Linked DNA regions of Homo sapiens: region 1 is linked to region 2. A link means that fine-mapping ties the variant in region 2 to the expression of a gene that starts in the linked region. Tissue or cell type: testis. Region 2 holds a variant in brackets; the other region holds the start of a gene. All regions are shown on one strand. Distances are from middle to middle.

The links. PIP is the estimated chance that this variant, and not a neighbour inherited with it, causes the effect.
Region 1: MAP3K9 starts here. The variant in region 2 is fine-mapped to the expression of MAP3K9 in testis (GTEx, PIP above 0.99).

The regions. Positions count from the first base shown.
Region 1 is chr14:70,804,684-70,814,817 of GRCh38, reverse strand. It overlaps MAP3K9 (mitogen-activated protein kinase kinase kinase 9), which reads left to right and starts at 5,305. Exons shown (of 12, transcript NM_001284230.2): 1 at 5,305-6,052. The coding sequence starts at 5,647. MAP3K9-DT (MAP3K9 divergent transcript) reads right to left here and starts at 6,034. Exons shown (of 2, transcript NR_184164.1): 1 at 5,531-6,034. RefSeq lists a silencer at 5,104-5,743 and an enhancer at 6,684-6,743.
Region 2 is chr14:70,778,272-70,788,405 of GRCh38, reverse strand. The region is part of intron 2 of MAP3K9 (mitogen-activated protein kinase kinase kinase 9); the gene reads left to right. Among named protein-coding and RNA genes, the nearest start is that of MAP3K9-DT, 25 kb to the left of the region's middle. RefSeq lists an enhancer at 7,628-7,717. The variant G/AG (reference allele first, on the strand shown) is at 4,945.

The sequences.
Region 1 (10,134 bases), 26 kb before region 2:
CTTACTTCATCTAACCTTCACAGCAACCCCATTTTATACAATCTCATGTTACCAACAATGAAACAGAGGCTCAGAGAGGTGAAAGGCCTCCCACAGTCATGACAAGTTGATCAAGACTTGTCTGGGTCTGACTCCACAGGTCTGTTCCATCAGCCCTGCCACATATCTGCCCAAACCATTTGCCTAAAATCATATTTAATGCAAATGGAGTTTATGAAACAGGAACTAGGGCTTCTTTCCTGAAATGGTACACATGAGAGGTGAAAGTGGTGGGCTGGCTCTTTTAGAAAAGGTCAAAGGGGCCAGGCACGGTGGCTCAAACCTGTAATCCCAGCATTTGAAGAGATGGAGGCAGGAGGATCACTTGAGGCCAAGAGTTTGAAGCCAGCCTGGGCAACACAGTGAGTCCTTATCTCTACCAAAAATTAACAAAATTTGCCAGGTGTGGTGGCACGCACCTGTAGTCCCAGCTACTCAGGATGCTGAGGCAGGAGGACCCACTGAGTCCAGGAGTTTGAGGCTGCCATGTGATCAGTGAGCTATGATCGTGCCACTGCTCTCCAGCCTGGGTGACACAGTGAGACCTTGTTTCTTTAAAAAAAAAAAAAAAAAAAGGTAAAAGTCTGCTTGAGGGATTTTTTTTTTTTACATCAAAGTACTAATTTTAAATATTTCCCAAAAGAATCAAGGAAAGGGTGACATTCATTAACTAAGTCACGGTTTAGGCTCAAATAATACCAGTAACTACATGCTAGATTATGTGTTAAGCACATAACATATATAAGATAGGTACAATTATCCCTAATTTCCAGGTGAGGGATCTGGGGCACAGCAGGGTTAACTTGCCTAATGGCACACAGTAAGCATAGATTCAAACTCAGTCAGAAGCCAAGACCCCAAATTCTTCAATAGTCTATGATGCCTGCCCTCTTTCTTCCCTTCCCTCCTTTCTTTCCTTCCTTTTCTCCCCTCCCTGCTTCCTTCCTGTTTTTCTCTTTTTCGTCCTTTCTTTCTTTCCCTCTCCTCCTGCCCTCCCTCCTTCCTTCACCCCTTCCTCTCCTCTCCTTTCTGTTCCTTTTTTTTTTTTTGAGAGAGAGGGTCTCGTTTTGTTACCCAGGCTAGAGTGCAGTGGAGCAATCTCAGCTCACTACAGCCTCAACATCTCTGCTCAAGCGATCCTCCCATCTCAGCCTCCCAAAAGCTAGGACCACAGGCACCACCATGCCTGGCTAATTTTTCTATTTTGTAGAGATGGGGTTTCACCATGTTGCCCAGGCTGGTCTTGAACTCCTCAGCTCAAGTGGTCCACCCATCTCGGCCTCCCAGAGGCCTCTGTTCCTTTTTCCTTCCTTCCTTCTCTCTCTTTCCTTTAGGGAAAACCCTGGGTTCAACTTTCAGTCAAGAGGCCTAGGTGTAATTAAAGAGTGTTTCTTGGGGGTAATGGGCAGGTGAAAGAAGGAAAAAAATATGTTGACTATTTGCTGGGTGTGAGCAGCAAGCTAAGAGCTTCTGCATGTCCTGTCTCATTTAATCCTGTAAACATCCATTAAAACCAGGTATTATTATTACACCTACTTAAAATTGAGGAAACTGAGGTTCAAACTGGTGTCTTGCCCAAAGTCACAGCATTTTTAAAGGACAAAGCCAGGATAAACCATGATCTGTTGACTTAAGTCTAATGCCAACTTGCATCTTGATTGCTATTTTCTCCCTTATGCTATGCTTTTCAGCGTGGTAGAGAAAATGTTTCTTTTTTGGGGTGACATCTGCCAATCCCCTCCTCAAAAACTTCATAGTGGTAAAATCTTGGTAATTCCACCTGACTTTCAAAGTCTTTTACAATCTGCCCTTCTTTTATTTCATCAGTTTTATTTCCCATCACTCCCTTTTTGCATTCTCTCCTCTTCTCTGGATGAAATTTCTATTATTGCTACCCACTACATTAATTTCTATTTCCACATCTTTTATTCTCTATTAATCAGGTTGTACATATCTTTCAATGCCCAACTTAAGCATCTCCTCATCCATTCTAGTCCTCAGGGAAGGCAGTATTTGATCACCCCACAGCCCTACTCAAAACCTTTCAGTGATAATCTTTTACATGCTGAACAAAACCAAGGCTTCTTCGCCTGGGATTCAAGTCAGCCATCCAGTTGCAAAGAAGTACTGAGAGTCAATTATGTGCTAAGCACTCTCTAGGTGCTGGGAGAGCTGTGGAGAACCAGACAGACTGGTTCCTACCCTTATGGTGGATGCACCAGACATTAAATAATTACAAATAATCAATTACATAATTACTAGTGTGAATCAAGTGATTACAGGGCCCTCTACAGTCTGGTCTCAACCTATCTTTTCAGTTCTTTCTCATCCTTCTATTCCATCCAAATGGTCCCCTCTCCATGCTTTCCTACGTCTGTGGCTGTGCCTATTCCCACCCTCCTTTCCTGAACACACTCTTCCCTGCTCCACCCCATTCCCCTCCAGGACCAGTTCTGGTTCTGCTTCTTCCATGCAACCCTGCCAGACAAGTTTAGTCTGAAAGATCTACCCTCATTTGAATTCCTAGCACTTACCCATTCAACAAATATTAACTGAATGACTTGTTGAAATGTTTGATGAATGATTCTTTATGAGATTCTAAACACATGCTATGGTATTAAAGGTTTAAGTTGCACAGGGAATTAGTTTTCCTATTGAGAAGAATCAATGATTTTTCTCCTCTCTTCCCCTCTTCCCAGGGAGTGGGAAGGAATCCACAAAACTAAATAGTAGAACATACGAAATTATGGAGAAGCAAAATGACAATAAACTTACCCAATTACTCATAATCCGACTACTTAGAGACCCACTACTGACATTTTTCTCTTTTTAGTACTTTTTTTCCTGTTTCTGTTTTGCTGTGTGTCTACAGTTTGTAAAACTTTTTTTCCCTCAAGTTAAAAAAAATTCTTTTTTTTGAGACAGGGTCTTGCTTTGTCACCAGATTGGAATGTGGTATAGCAAACACTGTTCACTACAGCCTTGACCTCCTAGGTTCAAGCAATCTTCCTGCCTCAGCCTCTCAAACAGCTGGGACTACAGGCTTGCACCACCATGCCTGGCAAATTTTAACATTTTTTGTAGAGATAGGGGTCTCGCCATGTTGCTCAGGCTGGTCTCCTTCCTGGGCTCAAGTGATCCTCCTGCCTCAGCCTCCCAAACTGCTGAGATTTCAGGCACGAGCCACCATACCCAGTCCTAAGTTAAAATTTTATCAAGACAATTATTTTCTTATGGCCTTTAAAAAAACACAATATACCTCCATCCCCACTCCCTTGCTCTCTGCTGCTTGACAGTGGAATGGTTTTGTCTAAAACAAAACCTAGATAATTTACTCAGACTCATCCATATCTTTTCCAGTTCATGGATCCTATGTATAATAGGAATCTGAGCATTGTTTTAGGTCTTTACTTAAACAGAAATCCTTTTTCAAGACCTACTCTGGATGCTTTTTAGAACAAGCCTCATCTCTCTTCTTCAAGACCTCAAATGTGTGCTATGACTATACAGTGTAGTCATATTGATGAGCGAACCACAGAATGTTCAAACTATGAGGACACAGGATATCTTCCAGTTCACTCCCCTCACTTTAAGAGTACAGTGTTAGGACACCTGCCTGAAGTCATGCAGCTGCCTAGTTATCTTTCCAAATTGCCCCGCTGTCTTTAGTTTGTGTAATAATAAACCCCAAACTAAAATTCAACAAAAGCACTCACCCTTGCTAAATAAATCATGTCTATTCCTACCACTGAAGGGGAAAAGGTAACAAAGTTTGGTAGAAGTTGGGCTAGATCCTTCAGCACTGGCTTATTTAGAAATTTCAGAGGACTAGGTGAGGTGGCTAAGGCCTGTAATCCTAGCACTTTGGGAGGCCGAGGCAGGTGGATGACTTCAGCCCAGAGTTCAAGACGAGCCTGTACTTCCAGCTACTCGGGAGGGTGAGGTGGGAGGATGGCTTGAGCCTAGGATGTTGAGGCTGCAGTGAGCCGAGATTGCGCCACTGCACTCTGGCCTGGACAACAAACTGAGACCCTGGAAGAAAAGAAAAGAAAAGAAAGGAAAAGAAAAGAAAAGAAAAGAAAAGAGAAAAAAAGATCAGAGAACCTTTCTTACTGGAAGTCAACGTTGCCACGACAGGATTAAAGCAAGAAGAAACATTATGGGCCTCCTATCTCGTCCTTAATGTTCAAAACGCAGGGTATAGCAAAGCATATAGGAAGAGGTCGTCCTCACTCGTGAACTCAGCATCGGGTTCTACGTTTATTCTGCTTTGGTTCTTCTTAATCTGACCTCTATAGACTTCGCCACGATCCAAGGTGTAATTCCAACAGGCAAAAGAAGTCTAAGGATTGTCGAAAAGGTGGCTCCCTTCAGACAGACCAAGCCCAATTCATGGCAGCGTTCCCAGCCCCAGTTTGAAGCTCAGTAAGGTGGTCTCTTGCCTTTCTGAATTCTGAAAAAAGAGTGGTATTGGAATCTCTTCTTACCGGAACCCAGGAGAGGGCGAGCTGTGGTGCAGTCCTCATAAAGGGGAGAACTGTAGTTTTCAGAGTTCTAATGAACATCCCAATGGGCCTAAAAGGCTTCAATAAGAGATGAAAGGTTCCGGGTGAGAGTGGGCGTGGGCGAAGCTGATCCCTCTAGGTCGGACTAAGGCAGAGCCAGATCCAAGAGGGAGAATCCAACTGTAAAAGGGATCTGGGGAAGAAAGAGCTCTGTTGGGGGTGCAGCCGGATGAAGAACACCGGTGCTGCTCAGTGCAGCCCCTACCCATCCATGGCAAACAAAGGCAGCTGCCTCCCTTCCAGCCTTTTAGTTTGAATGAAGGCTCAGTATTACCTTTTAGGATCCACCCTTCCCTTCTCACGCACCCAATGAGGCCGGAGCCTCTTCCTGCCGGGAGGTGCTGAACTCTCCCAGGAAACGGACAGGTGCCGCGAGCCAATGGAGGGAGCTGCGGCGGGCCAGTGGGCGGGAAGAGTGGGTCGACCTGGGTTTGAGAATGACAGAGCCCGCAATGGGGGAGGGCACGGTGCGACGGCGGCGCAGGGGGTGAGAGGGACCTGCGAGACGGCCAGCTAGGCTGCCCCAACCACGGCGGAGGAACCGGGGACTGGGCGGCCGCAGCCAATGGGAAGGCAGCGGGCGCGGGGCGGGGCGGGCGTGGGGCGGAGCCCCCTGGGGTCCGCAGGGCTGGGGCGGAGCCAGGCCCGCGTCAGGTGGTCCCGGCGAGCTGGCGGTGCGGGGGGCGGGGCACGGCACGGCGCGGAGAGGAGAGCGGCGGCCGGCTGGCAGCGGCGGGCACCGGCTGCGCGAGCAGGTACCGGCGGCAGAGGTGACGAGGCCGCCCCCGGGGGGGCGAGCGGGCAGGCGGGGACTCGGCCCGCTGCGCCCCTAGGCTGCGCGAAGAGCTCGCGCTCGGCGCTCTTCTCGTACCGCGGTAACAGCGCCGGCGAGCCGGCTCTCCCAGCCCTGCCAGCCCGGGCCCTACCTGCGGCCGCCGTCGTTGGGGGGGGGTCCTCCCAGCTCTGCGGAGGCGCATGAACAATAGGCGGCGGCGGCTCCTGCGGGCGGCGGCGGCCCCGCACCCTATGGATCGGCCGCTCCATGGAGCCCTCCAGAGCGCTTCTCGGCTGCCTAGCGAGCGCCGCCGCTGCCGCCCCGCCGGGGGAGGATGGAGCAGGGGCCGGGGCCGAGGAGGAGGAGGAGGAGGAGGAGGAGGCGGCGGCGGCGGTGGGCCCCGGGGAGCTGGGCTGCGACGCGCCGCTGCCCTACTGGACGGCCGTGTTCGAGTACGAGGCGGCGGGCGAGGACGAGCTGACCCTGCGGCTGGGCGACGTGGTGGAGGTGCTGTCCAAGGACTCGCAGGTGTCCGGCGACGAGGGCTGGTGGACCGGGCAGCTGAACCAGCGGGTGGGCATCTTCCCCAGCAACTACGTGACCCCGCGCAGCGCCTTCTCCAGCCGCTGCCAGCCCGGCGGCGAGGACCCCAGTTGCTACCCGCCCATTCAGTGTAAGGCGAAGGCGGGGCCGGGCGGGGAGGGGGAATGACGGAGGCCTGGGGGGCGGTCGGGGAAGGGGGGAGCACTGCGCGAGGGCTGGGATGAGGGCGGGGGGTGGGGAGGACGATTGACCTGGGTGTGGGTGGCGCGCGCTTAGGCTGCCCGGGCTTTGCTTGCTGGATAAGCTCGAGACGCCTCAGGCCCTGCCCGCACTTCAGACGCTTGGGCTTCTTCACCTTCAGTTGGCCACCTCAGCAGTGGCTCCCGATTTCCACATCCTGAAGTCCCAGTCTGAGAATTTGCCAGTTTCCCAGTCCCTTCTCTTACCCACCCCCCCGCCGCCCCCCATTCCCAATCTGGAAGTGTTTATGGCAAGATGGTGGTTAGTGTCCTAGCCTTAGTCCCCAAATCAGGGACCTTGCCACCACCTCTTCTAACGCCTGTCCCCGCCTCCTAAAGGCATTTGCTTTCAAAGAGATGGGGGTGTCTCCGCAGGGCTGAGCTGGCTCACAAGTCCCGGAAGCATGTGTGAACTCAAGGCTCAGTTGCCTGTAAAATGTCGGGTTGATTTCTTGGATCCTATTTCTTATATCTCAGAAGTTGTACCTTTAGGAGTCTCACTGATTAATGTGCTAAGAGGGATGTGTGTGTTGAGAGTGGGGGTGAGACAAGTGATGATTAGAGAGGAAAAAGTATGTCGTTCCCCCATGGGAGATCAGGATTGCAAGGTACAGTGGCTGAATCCCAGTCCTTTGACAGTGAGGCTGTTTGGGAAATACATTTTCTTCTTTCTTCTCATTCTAGATCCTTGCCTATCTTTGGAACTGGTCAAATCTCAGGGGGACCATGCTCAGGGGTCCCTCCCAGGGCCTTTCTCCCAGTGTCCTGGTTTCCGTCAATTTTCCAGGAGCCCCATATTTCATACCCTATAATGAAATCTTCTTTTTTTTTCAAGGGAGTTAAATTGCCATCACAATCCCTTAATCATACTAGTTTATTTCAGAAAAAAACATGTAAATATCTCTTTAGTGCAGTTTACACTATTTTGTATTTGAGAGTTTCCATAATCTCTTATCTGTTAAAAAGGTATTGTTAATATGTATTAATTACTGTTTATTCCTTATTTTGTATACTTTCATCTTAGTTGATTTTTTAAAACGTCATTAGCAAGGACCAACTTTAAATATTTAAATATTAAGATTTCCTTTGTAACAGTTACGTTTTTGGCTCTGTAAGTTATTTTTTACCCCAGCAATTGTGTTACTTTAATCTTGAGTTTTTTTGTTTTTTTGAGACAGTCTCGTTGTCTCCCAGGTTGGAGTTCAGTGGTGCAATCTCAGCTCACTGCAACCTCTGCCTCCCGGGTTCAAGCAATTCTCCTGCCTCAGCCTCCTGAGTAGCTGGGATTACAGGCGCCCGCCACCATGCCTGGCTAATTTTTGCATTTTTAGTAGAGATGAGGTTCACCATATTGGCCAAACTGGTCTCGAACTCCTGACCTCAAGTGATCCGCACGCCTCGGCCTTCCAAAGTGTTGGATTACAGGCGTGAGCCACCGTGTCTGGCCTATCTTTAGATGTTTTTTAAAAACTAGCACATAATATCAAAATCATAGCCTCTTCGCTTGTTTTTCTGCTCTTCTTTTTCTGTTGGTGTTTTGACTATCAAATCGATGTTCAAATCTTTAGGTTCCCCCTCTCCCTCTCATTCAGTTTAAAACTTCATTTTTCTTCATTTTGATCTTTAAAATGCCTGGAGGTAGCAAATTACTTTAAATTGTTTCCAGATACTACATCTTTTTGGGACTAGTTTGGTAGCCTTAAGGCTAAGCATCCTGGCATAGTGTTTTGAAAGTGTTGAAAATGAACTTGGTCATATATTGGAAGAAATATGAATAGCCTGGCATGTTAGAAAACAGTGTCATTTTAAACATAAGTCAGATTTTGATTCTGTGGGTGAAGTTTTGTGATTTTGTTTTCAGGGACAGCTAATGTCAAAGCAGAAGAGCTAGGTGAGGTTCGTGATCAGGAACTCGGTTTCTTCAATATCTTGTGCTCTGGCTGCTAGAGCAGTCAAGAGTCAGTATGACTTAGGCTGAAAAACTGTCCACAGAGCTAGGCATGGCAACAGCGTGCTACTTTTTCATTTGGTGGCCAGGACTTATCTTCATTGTCATACAAGTTATCTTGGATAGAGTGGATTCCTAAATCTGGAACCCAGATGTTGAGAAAGTAGGAAGTAACTTGTTCTAATGGAAAGAATTAACTTGAAGAATATGGCATTTGAAAGACCTGACACGTTCTTTTATTTGGCCTCACTAGGAGTTCTGATCTTGACTAGAATTAATTTTTGATAATTCAGAAAATTTAGTTTCAGTCAAAAACTAATTATTGAGTACCTAGTGAGTGATAGATACTGTACACTGTGTTAAGTACCAGGACATAAAGAAGTGATAAGATCAGAAGTTGCTTATAAGTTACATGAGGGAGATTAAGTATGTAAATATAAAACTTCAGTGCAGTGCCTTGGTTCATCAGAGGGTGAACATGGGCGGTCATTGAAGTCTATGTGCTCTACCAGATCAGTTTGTGTCACTCGGAAAGTGAAGACGATTGACAAACCTTGTCTCCGAAGACTTGGAATGAAATTGAGCCACTGACACTTCATCGCCAGAGTTACCCTTTTGAACTTCTCCTCTGAGCATGTGTTGTGACGTTGCATTCTGGACCATGAATAGAAGACATTAAGTCAAGCAATACTGTTCAGCTTTAGTTTCATATTATTGCTTCTTAAAGTGAAAATTTAGCTTCAAACTTTATTTAAAAGCTTTTTTTGTTTTTTTAATTTTTAGAGACAGGTTTTCACTCTGTCGCCCAGGCTGAAGTGCAGTGGCATAATCATAGCTCATTGCAACCTTGAACTCCTGGGCTCAAGAGATCCTCCCACCCCAGCCTCCCAAAGAAGCTGGGACCAGAGGCGCATGCCACCATGCCCAGCCAATTATTTTTATTTACTTTTTTAACAGAGGTGAGGTCTTGCTTTGTTGCCCAGGCTGGTTTCAAACTCTTGGCTTCAATCATTCCTCCCACCTCAGCCTTCCAGAGTGTTGGGATTATAGGCATAAGCCACTGTATCTGGCCTCAAACTTTATTCAAAACAGAAGGGGAAATTACTAAATATTATGACAAAGAAAACATATAAAAATGATATTATAAATCATTTTACATTCATATAATGCTTTAATCCTCTCCATTGTAGGTACTTGTTAGAGTTTAGCTGTCTATGGATGACAAGTATAAATAACCCAGGAGCTCATCCATCGTCTTTATTTTAGTGAAAGATGAAAAATGTACAGTTCCAAACTCATTATCTTGGGAGATGCAATCCTAGGTATTATATGAAAGTTTCTCTAACAAGAGAGTTGTTTCAGTTTTCAAACAGGGCATACATTAAGGTTATTAGTTTATGTTTTTTATTATCTACATCCACTAGAAATAGAAGGACATATTTTCAGATGTACCTAAGATTTTTGAGTGAAGTATATAACATTCACTTACTCAAAACCCACCAAAATATGCCTAAACATTCAGTTTCCAAGCATACGATTGAGAGGGAATAACATCTTGACTTTAAAAATGGAAGAACTAAGGATTTATTCCTGATATTCCTGGAAATATCCTTCCACAGAAACTGAAAAATGTGCTGAATGCAGCTTGACCTGATTCTTACTTAAAACCAGGTCTTGACTGGAGCAGGGAAGGGAAGGAGAGCCCCACATACTCTGCTGCAGCTGAAGGTCTAGTTCCTTCGTTCCTATCCACAGGGACTGAGCAGGGAAGGAAAAAGAAGGTCCTTCCTCCCTCCCTTCTTTCTGGGTTCTGTCTTTTATCTGCTTGAAAGTTGTGTTCTATACTTTTCTTGGAGTCAGGTCATAATATTTGCTTAACTAAATAGCAAGAACCTGAGATTTTTATGTTCTACTCAAAGAGAGGTTATTGCTTTCCCTTCCCTGCAGAGGTTTTTAGAGGAGCTGTCCTTTCAGCACCCTAGTACTGAATCATGTCTTTTAAACCTCCCTGCATTTATTTTTTCA
Region 2 (10,134 bases):
GATCATCTAGGTGAAGTTCTTAGGAGTGCCTGGCACGTAATAAGCACCCAGTATATTGACCATTTTAATTATAATTCCATCTGCTACACTTATTCCCTTAGTATTTAGATCACAATTGGTGATTATATTTTTGGGTGGTATCTTTTGTCTTGTACTTGCATTTTCATTGTTTTAGTCATATTCTTTCCAGTTGTACTGTAGAATTTAAAAAATTCAAAATGTAGTGGATACACATGGGTAAAAATAGGACAAAATTGAAATACAAAGAAAAGTCTGTCTCCAGAAAAAGAGAGAGAAAAAAGAAAAGTCTCTGTCCTTCCCTCCCAAACCCTAAGTTTACTTCTTAGAGGCAAATGCGATTAAGTATCTTTTTGTCTCTGATAACTTTTTTTCTATGAAAACATAGAAATCCCAATAGAATTCTGGACAGCAGAGGTGTTGCTGTTTTTCATCCCTTCGTCTTCCCTTGCTCCCCCCATCTCTGTCTCCCCTCACATCATCCCTAGTATAGGACTTCGCATGTAGCAGCCCAGGTGTTTGGTGGCAATTCCAATGTGGCCAACCAAAAAATCTTGTTTTGTTTGTGTGTTTTTTTTTGTCCCTAGTTCCTTTCTGGATGGACTCAAAACACTTTTACTGAATGAGCTTTGTTTGTTCTCTTCAAGCCTTTGCTTTTATATATCTATTTCATAAACTTCTCAGGGGCTTGGGACCCTAGAGGAAGGTGTTCCTTGGAGTAGCTTGTAAAGTCAGAAGCCCAATGTGTGTCTTTGGAATTGCCCAGCTGTGAAGGTACTGACTGTCCATCCATCCCTTGGAGCAGGTTTGGGAGTGGGGCCCATTGCAGCAGGTGGGCATCAGGATGCTGGCAATGACCGATCTTTTTTTTTTTTTTTTTGAGACAGAGTCTTGTACTGTTGCCCGAGCTGGTGTGCAGTGGTGCCATCTCGGCTTGCTGCAACCTCTGCCTCTGAGGTTCAAGTGATTCTCCTGCCTCAGCCTCCCGAGTAGCTAGGATTACAGGTGCCCGCCACCACACCCAGCTAGTTTTTTGTATTTTTAGTAGAGACGGGGTTTCACTATGTTGGCCAGGCTGGTCTCAAACTCCTGACCTTGTGATCCGCCCGTCTTGGCCTCCCAAAGTGCTAGGATTACAGGTGTGAGCCACTGCGCCCAGCCAGTGACTGATCTTATAGTTAAGATCTTTCTCTGCAAATCCTTGTGACTGCAAGCTGATGTGGCTTATGAGGCAATATAACAGGAAAAAGTATCATTGAAAAAGGAAAAAAAAATAGTTATGCTAGATTCCAGTGTGCAGATACAACTGTTTTCATCTTTATATTTGGCTTTCCTATTCTTATCTATATACCTCATCTCCTCCTGCTGTTTTATTCACGGTGTACATGCCATCTGGACACTTAAAATTTGTTTTTGTTTCTGCATTCTGTTAACCTTCAGGGTCCAAGAGGAAGGAGGATGCCTTAATCAGTGAGTACCAAGAAAAACCAAAAAACTAAAAATAAAAACAATAAATAAGAGGAAGGAGAAAAGGACTGTGGGTAGGGAAAATAGCGATAGATTTTGGATTCTGGTCATTCTTGACTTTCTTTTTTGCTTATAGATATGATTAGAGCTTACTGGAACCTTACAGTTGTGAACTAGAGAAGCTGAGTGACTTGCCTAAGGTCATCCTGATGCTCATGATAGTGTTCCTTCTTTTAGCCCGACAATGGAACACTGTTACTCTGCCAGGCTTTCCAGCTAGGACCAAAGTATTTCAGACAACAGTGGAAACAGGATCTGTACCCCATTCGAGGAACCAGGGGGACAATTTCCTTGTAAGGTCCCAAGGTCAAAGTTTGGGGTGAAGTCAGTGTTTTTCCTGGTTACTAACATGAACTCGGTCTTTGGTATGTTATGTAGAAGGATAACAGTGTTCAGTATTCTTCTAGGTGGTACAATTTTTAGGAAGAAAAGAATAATAAAAACATTTTTTATTTCTTAAGCAGTAGACTCCTGGCTCCCTGTGCTTAGAGATAGGAATCCCCGCTGAGAGATAGATGGGAATCCTGGAGTGGATTGTTAATAATCTCCCTGTTATTGGCACAGTTGTGTGATAGAGAGTTGTTTTCCCCTCTCCCCTGCCTTAGGAGACCTACCCTTACTAAGTATTTGGATTAAATTAATAATAAAATAGCTTGCTTTGCCCAAATGCACAGCAGCTAGTGACAAGGGGAGATGCCACATCACATCCCATGGATGGCAATGGAAAATCAACTAAGGACGTAAAATTTTCCCACATAAGCTTCAGATGACTTAAGATTATTAGTGTAACCTGATATTATCTGATACTCTCCTTGGCTTATTATTCATGGTGACAGTAATACATGGCCCTCATTTCCTTCATCCCCCAAATAGTCCTAGAGGTAGTAGAAAGAGTATGGTAGTCCCCTCTTATCTGCCATTTCACTCTCCCTGTTTTTAGTTACTCATAGTCAACTGTGGTCCAGAAATATTACATGGAACATTCTAGAAATAACGATTCATAAGTTTTAAATTGCACACCATTCTGAGTAGCGCAATGAAGTCTCACGCCTTCCCACCCCTTCTTGTGTGGGATGTGAATCACATCCTGTCCAGCATGTCCACACTGGGTGTACTACCTGCCCATTAGTCATCCACATGGTCTGTCCTGACATCCAACCATTGACATTGTCACAACTCAATGATCCCGGGTCATCCAAAGCAGACGATCCTCTGACTACACATCAGAAGGTTGGGAGTACCAAACACTGTGTCACTGTGTCACCTCGCCTATGTCATCTACCGCGCACTTCATCTCATCACGTACCCATTTTTTCATCTCATAACGTCACAAGAAGGGCGAATACAGTACAACAAGATCTTTTCAGAGAGAGAGAGAAACCACATTAATAAAACTTTTCTTATAGTATAGTTGTTCTATTTTATTGTTAGTGTTAATCTCTTACTGTGCCTAATTTATAAATTAAACTTTATCATAGGTATGAATGTATAGGAAAAAACAGTATATACAGGGTTCTATCCATGGATTGGGGCATCCACTGGGGATCCTGGAATGTGTCCCCTGAAGATAAGGAGGGACTCCTGTAATCATGCTTTGTATTTGGTCCTTTAGAATTTTATTTGAAACAGTATCTACCTGAGGTACTCCAGGAAGAGGTGGTAGTATCCCCATTTTATAACAGAGGAAGCTGAGGCTCAGGGAGGTTTAACAATGCCCTGCCCAAGAACACATAGCTAGAGAATGATAGGGCCTGGACTCAAATACCAGGCTCTTGAGTGCTTGCATGGTTTTCTTTCTGCTCTGCTTGTTGGAAACAGACTGCAATAGGAGATCCTTCTCTAGCACCTTGTTCTGCAGGACGGACCCTGTGACTCACCAGAGTCTGGGTGCAACAGGGCTAGACCTGGACATTAAACCTGGTCTTGGGGACTTTGTGGGGTAGATCATCCCCACATTTCGAACTACAGATAGGGGATCCTTTATTTCTCCAACCCAGGACCTCTGGTACCTCCAGACCTGATGGTCCTAAAATGCACAAGACCTGAGAGCTAGTTTCTCATTTCTCTTTTCCCCAGGGCCCCTCCAAAAGCACAATTTGAACCTCAGCCATCCTTCTGTAGCCTCAGGTTTGCTTCTTCTTCCATCTCACTCACTCTGTCTCCCAGGCTGGAGTACAGTGGCCTCCACTTCCCGGGTTCGAGCAGTTCTCCTGCATCAGCCTCCTGAGTAGCTGGGATTACTGACGCCTGCCACCACACCTGGCTAATTTTTGTATTTTCAGTAGAGATGGGGTTTCAACATATTGGCCAGGCTGGTCTTGAACTCCTGTCCTCAAGTGATCTGCCCACCTCGGCCTCCCAAAGTTGTGGGATTACAGGCATGAGCCACTGTGCCCGGCTTCAGCTTTGCTTCTTGTTAGTGTTTGTCCTGAACCAAAATTGTGCTTGCATACAGCTGTCCAGAAGTTGGGCCATCGCAGAAGCTTCCATGTTATTGGGCTCTTGTACTTACTTGTGTTTGTGTTGTGGTTTTGTTTTTTATTTTATTTTATTTATTTTAGTATTTTTTTTTGTTTTGAGACGGAGTTTTGCTCTTGTTTCCCAGGCTGGAGTGCAGTGGCGCGATCTCAGCTTGCTGCAGCCTCCACCTCCCGGGTTCAAGCGATTCTCCTGCCTCAGCCTCTCAAGTAGCTGGGATTACAGGCATGCACCACCATGCCCAGCTAGTTTTGTATTTTTAGTAGAGGTGCAATTTCACCATGTTGGTCAAGCTGGTCTCGAACTCCTGACTTCAGGCTATCTGCCTGCCTCGGCCTCCCAAAGTGCTGGGATTACAGGCGTGAGCCACTGCGCCTGGCCGTGGTTTGTTTTTGTTTAAACAAAAGAAGTATATATAGATTTCAGATACATTCACAGATGATTGTTTATGGAATTTAAAAAATTTTAACCAGAAAAGTAATATAAACATTCAAAAAGGGTTTGGACACGTCTGTTAATTGCAGAGCCCTGTGTGGTTATTCAGATGCCACGTCTTTCAGCTCTGTGTAGTCTGGGAGGTGAGCGGGCCTTTCTGGGGTGTTTCTTTGCAGCTGAATTTATGGCCAAATGGACCATGCGTGAGCAAGAGAGCAGTTCCATTCCTCCTGGAGGAGCGCTGAGCATGCTTTGTGGTGCCCACTTAACACTTTTAGATGAATACTATGAAAGACAAATTTGACTTCACTGTTCATTCCTTGAAGCTCCAATTTGGATTGATTGCTGGTGGAATAACACCTGGACTATCAATGAGTGAAGCCTCCCGGCTATTTCCTTCGCCCACCTCACAAAGAGAATTTGGATTTTGCTGCTCCTGGAACTTTAGAGCTTTGTGATGGGAGGAAAGGGGAGGGGACAAAGAGT[G/AG]AATCCTTCAGGAGCTCTTTTGGGAGGAATTTTGAGCAGGAAATGAGGGAGCTTCTTTCTATAAGGACAGTGGATGGAATTAAAAAGGGGTATTTGAGGAAGCGTTGCTGTGGATCATATGAAACCTTTGGATGCTCAAGAAAAATAAGAGTCAGACTAATTTGAATTTACTTTAGGATGCCGTCTTCCTTCCCACCTTACCGTTGTTTGGACACAGTACTGTCCTGGGCTTCTAACATGTGAGTCTGTGGCTTTATATGCTTGACTCTAGTTGCATGGACCATGAATCTGGCCAATTTTAGGTTTCTTACAAGCATTTTGATGCTTGATTTGATGTGTAGTATATTGGTGGAGAGACTGGGATAATGACCTTCCAGGAAGAGTAAAAGTGACCCCACTGAGGAAAAATAAGATATTCTAAGACTTTTCCTTACATGGGCATTCACTGAAGGCAGAGAACACGGCATTTGAGCGTTTTCCCAGCAGTTTCTGGGTATGCCTGTTATGCCCACCTTCCAGGTAGCAGGGAAGGAAGGAAAGGACTGGCTTTCACCTGGAAACTGAGGTGTAACATCTAGAGAATTTGTATAGTTTTGAATTTTCCCTACCATGGTGAGATCCTCAACTCTGTCTCATGGGGAACAGGATTTGTAGAGTAATATTCAGAGGTAGACTAGGAAGATGCTAGGAAGTCTCATCTTCCCCATGCAATGGACATGGAGGTGGGAGGAAGGAATTAGAAAAGCATCCATATCATAGACTGAAAGACAGTGAGTCAGAGCAAAGCTAGTCTTGGCCTGAGGAGGTACTTGAGGTTGGTTCCTCCCTGCTCTTACATGGAGAGGTTGAAAAGTGATTCATAGGAAACTTTAATTGGTGTTTCATAGCTTTCCAGGGCTATTAAGGACTTGTGGTTCACAATGGCAACTCCCAGTGTTTCGAGCCTTTGTGGTTGGGACTTCCTTGCCTGCAAGGTGATGGGATGAAGGTGGTATCTGTGGTGGCTTGTACCGCTTCCTCCTCTGCCCTCAAATCCTTTCTCCTCTGCAATGCCTGGGGTGAAGTGCAGGTCACAGAGCCTGGAATGTTTTCTTTTTGTATAGATCATGATTCTCAACCGATGTGGGTAATTTTATTACCCAAATGTCCTCATAAGAAATTGACGTGCCTGCTATTGCATACATGCTGTAAGAAATACGGTCAATTTATTATATACATAACATAGAGGTCACTTCCACTGCATTCTTTCCATCCTTAGGAGTTGTGCTATGTAAACACATCCTAAACAACCAGAACAGTGTGATGTAGTAGGGGGCAGCGTGTCAAGATACATGAGATGGGGTCTGGAGAAGGCAGAATTCCCTGGGAGGCCTTGATGGAACAATTAGGCCTCAAAGAAGGGGTAGGATTCAAGAGTTGGTAATAGGGCAGGTAGGCCATAGCTATGACCTCCCAGGGAAGGCGGCCTGCCCCAGCTCAGACAGAGCCAAGTGTTCACTGATGCCATGTCCCATCACCTGGGTTCTTTAGGCAATTCCCAGACCTGGAATGTTGACTAGGAAAGCCATGCTCCCAAGAAGTTGAGTCTTCCATGTGAAACAGCTCCTCTTTCTAAGTGGCCAGAGAACCTGGGCTGGTACAGTTGTGGGCTGGTACAGTTGTGGGCTCTGAATCAGGCAGACCTGGCTTTGGGCAAAGTCCTCGACCCTGAGCCCATTTCCTCCTCTGTAAAATGGGGATAATTCTAGTATTTACTCATGGCATTATAATGAGGATTAAATGAAGTTATGTGTGTAAACCCTTAGCATAATGCCTGGCACAAAGTAAATGCTCAGTAAAAGGTAGTTTTTCCTTTTTAAAAAATTCAAGAGCAGCAGCAGATATGAGACTAGACTCACAGTGTATCACCTACTGTTTCCATTACTATTTCTTCAGAACAAACGACCCCAAACAAGAACATTTTATTAAGCTCATGGAGACTTGGGTCAGGAATTTGGAAAGAGCTCATTAGGGATGGCTTGTCAATGTCTGGGGCCTCACCTGGGAAGACTTGAAGGCTAGGGGAGGCTGCAGATGGAGGCAGGAACCATCTGAAGGTTGTTCACACACATGGCTCAGTGCCTGAGCTGGGAGAAGCTGGAGGCCAGGACTGCTGATGGGAGTGCCCATGTGCAGTCTGTCCATGAGCATGGCTCTCTTAGGGCTCTTGGCCTTACATAGTGGCTCAAGGCTGCAGACCCAAGTGTTCCAGTGAACATGGGGAAGCTGTAGCATCTTTTCTGATCTAGCTTAGAAGTCGGGCATTGTCATTTCTTCTGCATTCTGTTAAAGTGAGTCTCAAGACCACTCAGCTTCAAGTGGAGAGGACACAGACCCACCTCTCAGTGGGAAAAGTGTCAAGATCACACTGGGGAAAAGCACAGAGGATGGGAGATGATGGACCACTTTGAAAATGCAACCTTCCATGCCTGCTAAGGGAACTCTGCTAGCAGAGCTTGGGGATACAAGGCCCTGGAGAGCCTGTGCGGCGGCTGCACCCCATGGCCACCTGCCAAGAAAGAACTGCTTTCTGTTGACAAAACCATCGAGCATCTGATAGGCTTCCTCTTTTTTGGTTATTTTTATCTGGTATGTAGCTGGGTACTTCAGAGGTATGACGGAGATCTGGCAGCTCTTCTCAGTCAGTTTGAGCTGATACGATGAGAAAATTCAGGGGAGGCAGGTGTTTAAGGAGATGTTCTTTAGTAAGGAAAGTGGCTGCACAAAAGCCTCTGGCTTTCTGTTTCCTGCTGGTGATATCTGCGCCTGGATGAGGTGAGGGATGGAGTCCCAGCTGTGTTTTCTGGGCTTAATTTGCACAAGATGGCAAGGGCTGTAGGTGTCCAAGTTGACGCCTTTTGAAGCAGTTATATTTTAGGATGTTAGAGAGAGCTAGGTGTCCTGCAGACACGTGGGAGGTTTGGTCAGGGAGATGGTGCTTATTCTTCTGTTTTAATCATGAGAACCTTTCACTCAGCAGCATGGGAGATGTGGGAAGTGGGTACGGCCTCCAAGAAAGAGATGAAAGTGAAGTTCCCATAGAAAGTTGGGGCTGGTTAAAGGAGTCATTTTTCAAGGCTGATGAATTGTGCTGTGCCTACAGGAGGCCTATAAATATATTAGTTCCCTATCATGTCTCCTTCTATCCTCCAGCCCAACAAGGCAGCAGAAATCCACACCTCATGCTGTTAAGTCATGCGGCAGGCATGGATGTGGGCACATTATGAGGAAGCCTGGTGCTTTGGGTTGTTTCTCCAGTGCTGGTCCACATGAATACATCTGATTTGTTCCCTTGTTCCCCAGAACACATATGCACATTATGGCCAGCCAGAGTTGTTTGGGAGTGGCCTGGTTCAAACTATCACCCTAGTATCCCAATCTTGTTAACTAACCAGCCTGTCTGAAAACTTTGCATAAGGCCTGGGTGCCTGTCTGAAGGATCAAGACACTAGCCAGCCCCAGGAAGCTCATCTATCCGTTCTGTCTCCTCTGACGTCATTCTTAGGTTGTGCCATTCCCTGAGTTCCTTGCTGCATGCCCTTGGCTGACATTGCAAAGTGCATTGCACTGATACCTGGGGGCTTGCCAGAGATGTCCCAAATGAATGCAGGACTGAGCCGCGTTGGCAAGGAGTGGCTGTTCTCAGCATGCCAGAACTGTGGAATTGCATCTGGTCTAGTTAGTAGCAGTCAGTAATATGTGAGTTGGTAGCTACAACTGAAAATGAAGGAACCCTGTTTCTAGGTGTTTGTGGCTGCAGAAGCTTCAGTTCCTGTTGGAAGGGAAGAGTGGGTGGGTGAATGTTAGCCTAGAGGTAGGAGGAGTGGGACCACTAAACCCCGCTGAACTCACTAAATGCTAGTATATTCCTGTGAGATTGGTGACATACAGGGACTTAGCCAGAGCAAGTAAGTGATGTGATGTCAGAGAGATTTCCTAGGACTCATGGACCACTCTTTCTCCGTGTATGTGAAATTAATTACTCTGTCTGACTGTCCCATCCTTTCCATCCCCAGTACTTGAGTTTGTCATTCACCATTGTCCCCTGGACAATTGTAATAGGTTACTTACTGTGGCTCACTGCCAGTCTGTTGCTTTTTCAGTTTAATTTGTCTCACTGCAACCATAGTTGTTTTGCTGAAACTCAAATCTTGTCACAACACTTTTCTGCTTAAAAACTACTTGTGACTCCAGGGTCATTTCCAAGTTCCTTGGCAGGGTCTGTAGTCTTCCAGTCCTGCCCCAGCCCTTCACTGCGGCTCCTTCTTCTCCCTTTCTACCTCATGAAAGTTCTGCTCCAGCTACAAGGGACTATTTCTTAGATATGTCAAGGCCCCTCAGCCCTCTTGGACCTGGACTCACGTTATTCCCTCTGCTGGGAGTGGTCTTTCTTCTGATTCTCCCCCTGGACCAAACCCTGTCCTCTCGTTACAGCACAGAGAGCAGTTGTTTATTCTGTGAGCCCCTTCTAAGGAGCCCCTTCCTCTGTACATTCTAGTTTCAGGCATCCTCCATGTTAGGTGTTCAAACAAGATGGGTGGACGGGGTAGGGTAAGGCATCATCAAGAGCATGAGAGTAGCCAGTGGTCCCCACTTTACCACTTTCTGGCTGGGTAGCTCAGGGGAATATCCTCACTTCTCAGCCACAGCTTCTTCATCTGTAAGTAGAGATTAAAACAGTACATATCCGTAAATAGAGATTAAAACAGTACATCTGTTTTTATATAAGTACTGCACGTAAAATGCTTAGCATGGTGCCTGCCATGTGGTAAGTGCTCAGTAAATGCTAGCAATGATGATGACAGTGTTATAGGTGTAGACTTATATGGCCAGAATGAGAGAAGTTTGGCCTGGTGCAGTGGCTCATGCCTGTAACCCCTGCACTTTGGGAGGCCGAGGACGGTGGATCACCTGAGGTCAGGAGTTTGAGACCAGCCTGGCCAACATGGCGAAACCCCGTCTCTGCTAAAAACACAAAAATTAGCCAGGTGTGGTGGCACATACCTGTAATCCCAGCTACTCAGGAGGCTGAGGCATGAGAATTGCTTGAACCTGAGAGACGGAGTTGCAGTGAGCAGAGATCGCGTCGTGACACTCCAACCTGGGTGACAAAGGGGGACTCCGTCTCAAAAAAAAAAAAAAAAAATAGCT